Regions from separate parts of the Homo sapiens genome. Here region 2 is linked to region 1. Evidence: fine-mapped expression QTL. A gene starts in region 1. The other region holds a variant in brackets. All regions are shown on one strand. Distances are between the middles of the regions. Region 1 holds the start of ST3GAL6 (ST3 beta-galactoside alpha-2,3-sialyltransferase 6). Region 2 has its middle 8.0 kb from the start of ST3GAL6-AS1.

What was found. PIP is the estimated chance that this variant, and not a neighbour inherited with it, causes the effect.
Region 2: its variant is fine-mapped to the expression of ST3GAL6 in stomach (GTEx, PIP above 0.99).

What each region holds. Positions count from the first base shown.
Region 1 is chr3:98,762,077-98,764,576 of GRCh38, forward strand. It overlaps ST3GAL6 (ST3 beta-galactoside alpha-2,3-sialyltransferase 6), which reads left to right and starts at 1,264. Exons shown (of 10, transcript NM_001323368.2): 1 at 1,264-1,363.
Region 2 is chr3:98,739,407-98,741,906 of GRCh38, forward strand. It overlaps a transcript of ST3GAL6 not described here. Among named protein-coding and RNA genes, the nearest start is that of ST3GAL6-AS1, 8.0 kb to the left of the region's middle. The variant C/G (reference allele first, on the strand shown) is at 1,261.

The sequences.
Region 1 (2,500 bases):
AAGGACAGTGAAAGCACTGGTGAAAGCACTGGCTTTGTTGAAAAGCTGAAAGAGAAGGGTGTTTGTGCATATGCATGTCGGAACCAGCTTCATATCATTGTATTAGCAGAAGAGTTGGGGGAGGAGAGGGAAAGAAAGTTAATTATACGTGTTCCCTTTCTGCAATGCAGAAAGAAAATAGTTATATTCTTAGAAATCAGTCAAAATGTATACAGCTGATCTAATTTGTTGACACTACACAACTCAATATTTTTGGAGGGGGGCATAAATCAGATTTTCTGTTAATTTACTCAGCAATGTCAGAGTTTTTTTCTTAACTTGTATTAAATAGCATTAGTTTATAACTTCAGATTAAATTTAGCCTTTTCGTTGTAATATTGTATGTTTAAAAAATCTATATGTGCTGTTTTTTATTTCTTTAATTATGGTCTATTGAGAATTTCGTCATCCTTCTAGCAGAAAATCCCATCAACCAGACTACTGATTCCTTAGGATTTCTCTCTTTAATTATGAGATTAATAGCTTTTCATATTATAATGTTTCTAAAGAAGTGTGTTTGATAAATGCATAATTTAATGTGTATCATCCCCTTGTTTTATTTTTAAAAGATATTATTAAATGATTATTTAACAGTTCATACTCTTAAAAATATGGTTATTATAGTTTTCTATAAGCCACAATTTCAAAGTGTGGGCTTTGAAATCAGATCTCAGTTTGAATTCTGGCCAGTGCTCTGGGTATTAAACATATCTAGCATGGGGATGAAAATATCCGTGATTTCATCCTTATGTGAAAAAGGGCTTAGTACTGTGCTGGCCATTTAGTAAGTGGTTAATAAACTGTGCTATCATTTACATGATCATCGCTGCCAGAGGTTGTAGATCCTTGGGATATGAATGAAGCTGATCTCACGCATTTGGACTACCTAATTAGTAATAAGGACCAAACCTAAAAGAGAGGTAGTAAATGAATTGAGGAGGACTGAGGCCTTTCCATTCATCACTGTGGAGTCCTGTACATTAAGGCTCAGGTCATATGGAGATGGCTGGGTCTGTGAGGCTTAGGCTTAGGGGACCTATGAGGCTGGACCAAAAAAAATCTAGACATTAATGCATGGCTAGAGTTGGAGGTTCTGTTGTAGATTTGCTCATGTAGGCATGTGACTGCAGATTATAATCACAAATTGAGTAATAAGTACAAAGAGGAAGGAAGGCAGGATGTGAAATCTGTTGGCCATGTTCCACACAGTCTGGAGTGTATGTCAGTGTGAGCTGAAGACCAGCAGAGACTAGGATGGATGACGGCCTGTCCAGGGGCTGAATGGACACAGGTGTCAGCAGGGCCACCTGGTAAAGGTATGGAGGTGAGCCATGAACAAGGTTACCTGCTTAAGGGGAAGGTTGTGGCTTAAATCTAGATGCTGCTGAGATATTAGACATTAGGTGCCCACAGGCTGTGTGGAGGTAGAAGGGGGATGTGCTTCTCTTATTTGCACAAAGATGTGAGTTACTGAGGAGTATTATTGAACAGCAGCATGTTGGGTTTGAGAAGAGACCTAGTAGTAGAAAGAGTAGTATGTCTGCCACTGAGGAAGCAGGGAACAGAAGGGTGCCTCACCCCAGGGCAGATGGGGACATGGTTTAGGATCCTAGTGACTAAAAAAAAAAAAAAAAAAATGGAAGTTTGGCTGCAGAGCTGCTAGGGTGACTAGGAAAGAGAAGAATGCAGACGTTGGAAAAGTGTGGTATAGTTTAAGCACCCAGCAGCAGGAACCCAGGTCCAGTGGATGAGATGACCAGGATCACTACTGGATCCACAGGAACCTGACCCAACTGTTAAGCTGCTAGTCGAGGGCTCCTCAGACTCTCTTTCTGTGGGTCAGAATCAGTCCCAGTGCCTGGGGTGGCTGGGCTTGCAGATGGGCATTAGGAAGCACCTGCTTCCAGACTGAAACAGAACTGGGGATGGAGGAGACAGGGAGGTGAGGTTTGTGTGTGCTCAGCATCCGGAATAGAGAACGCCAAGGGTCTTTCTTCCTTGGTGTTGCATATTGACTGAGATACCCACCGGGTTTTTCTATTAGGTTGGTTTTAAATGACAAAAACCACAATTACTTTTGCACTAACCTAATGCTTGATAAGTAGAACAATGTTTCTAGAATTATTGCTGAACATGCTTTTTTCTAGCTGGTTGGAAAAGCAAGCTCCCTTTGGTTTGAGAAAGCATTAGGGGAGTCTAAAAAAAAACCTGACATTTTTTTCAAGTGTTTCTCCGTAGAGTTTGTTTTTATAAACAATGCTAGCATGGTTGGGAGGAGCAGAACTGGGAACAGGGTTGGGAGTAACAGGCTTTTATTTCAGCTGAGTTTGAATCAAAAGTATTATAAGCTTTACCTCCATTTCATCAATTACTAGAATTGATATTGCTTAAGGAGCTTGCAGGATTGCTTAAGTTGGAGAAATGTTCAGTAATGTTTAGTCTGGTAGCAAAAGGAGGGGCC
Region 2 (2,500 bases), 23 kb before region 1:
AAACCCATGCAAAATGCCATATAAACACAGACCTCTTGTCTTTGAGCTGATTCTATGAAATCACCTTTCCCATACCATTAGATTTTAGTCTTAAGAGGTATCAGCCTGTTGCTTCTGACCTCTTAGTGGGGTTTTCAGCTTAGGAAATATTCCATTACAAATATTTAGGCAGGAAACCTAGAAGGAAGTCTCAAATGCTTTTATTAAAATCTTATGCAACTTTAATATGTAAGAGTCCTTAATGTATTAAGGGGTGGAGGAAGCAGATATAGGGAATGTGTACATTTTCTATGGTTAGCATAGGGCCAAAGAATAAAAGGAGATTGTAGATTTTATTTTTTTAATTCTGTCTTTTTTGTGGATAACTCATTGCATTTAAAAACTGTAAGATGGGTTAAGCAGTTGCATTTAGATGAGAGCAGTGAGGTGATAGATAATCCAGGCATTCAAATAGGGTACAAATGAATTTTTCAACTACATTTTAGAACAGCAATTAAATGTAATTTATAATCTTATTTAATTGATAGGTTGTGGTAATTAAAGGAGCTTTCTGTTGTAAGTGATCTTGTGAGATAAAGGACATTGCTGTCAAAATATTTTTAATATTTAAAGCCAATATTTCAGGTAGATGTCGAAGTGATTTAGCTAATTATTATTCTTTTATCCCAGATATGCTACAATTAAATGATAAATAATTGGATTTTTTGATAAACGGGATGTAAGGAGATATGTGTGTTTTCTGATCACCAAGTAACTATAAATATTTTGCACACACTGAATTTTTTGGAGGGCAAATCTGGCTCTCTTATTGCAAAACACTTTTTTTTTTTTTTTTTTTTTTACAAATTTGATGTGTATGGTTCTTCTGCTTTAGTCATAGAATAAAAAATCATATTCTTACAAAAATCTTATATTCAAGCTCTCTATGACCATCAATGATTTTCATTATTTTTTTTCTGCTTAAAAATCCAGAGAATTTCTCTCACTGATTTTTGAGGTTTTCTGCCATCTTATGTTGCTAACTTTCTTTTTATTGTCCTGTTTGACGCTGTAGCCACGCAGGTCTCCTAGTGCTTCAGCTCAGGCTGTTCTTTGACACTCAGTGCCATTCTCCTTCTCCTCCACACTCTCCCATCTAAGCCAGATTATAACGTGTTCAGTTTCCAGCTTCATAACTTATCACTGCATGACTCCGAACAAATAGCCTAACTTCTCTGAGCCTTACTTTCCTTATCTATAAATTTGAAATAATATCCACAT[C/G]ACAGTAATTGTGATAATGAAAAAAACACATACAAATATTTGAGCATAGTTTCTGCCAAATATCAAATATTTAATCAGTGTTATCTGCCACTATTACTATTATAACTCTGTTTTTATAGCTATTATGACAATTCTATTCTTCCTCAATTAGTTAAAAATTGACTTTCCCCAGAAACCCTTTCTGATTGTTCTTATATACCTCTAATTTTTTCTCAGATCTGTTTCCTCTTAGCACCTGGCTTCCCTTTGGACTATGTTAATCTACCTATGTTATTATATTTCTTTCATCATTCTTCAGCGAACAGCAACAAATACTTTGCATCTATCATATGCCAAGTACTCTGCTATTATAAAGGGATCCATGGGCATATAGTAGAGGGATTCAGTGTGTGTGTGTGTGTGTGTGTGTGTGTGTGTGCATGCATGTATGTACATATGCTTTCAAGTGGAGTTAGGGAGAGAAAATCTGTAGGTTGAATAGAGCTATGAATTTTTCAGAATAAACTAGGCTTAAGGAGCAAAAACCGTTCTCTCCGAATGTTCTTGAAATCTGAGATTTTTTTTTTTTATGGTTCAAAACATAGAAACACTGTAGTTATCTCTGATCTTGAAACAGCTTTACATATGCTTTCTTGGACTCCTATGTCATCATCCAGATGCAGGGTAGAGATAGAAAGGGAAGTCCTCCTTGAAGAACAGAATCCTAACAGATTATTCCAATTTATATTGGGGAGTGGGAATGTTGTGGGAGGGGAATTGGGGGGCAGGGTGAGAGGAGAGGGAGAACATTCCGGGCAGCAGGAACAGTATGACCAAAGGCGCTGAGACATGAAACTGCCAAGAAGGATTGAGAAGTGCACAAAGTTTGGTGTTACTAGAGTCAAGCATTTCAGGAGATGAGTCAAGAGTCAAGCATTTCAGGAGATAAGGCAGGACAGGCCGTAGGAGCCAGCTGGATCAGACTTAGAGGCCTATGGCTTATATATTTATATCTCTCTATAAGGCACTTAGGGAGGTAGGTCTATATAAACAATTTATAACAGGTAAATTCTACATGTTGCTTCTAAATTTGGACTTGGGGCTTACAATATGGCATGTAATACATTCCTTCCAATTGCTGTTGTCACCAGAATATGATGAAAACATTAGTTAAGTTAATATATAATTGATATTTAGCACTCTCACTTTTAATAACTTGAGTGAAGGATAGAAATGTGAAGTGTCATTTGTGACTTTTGAG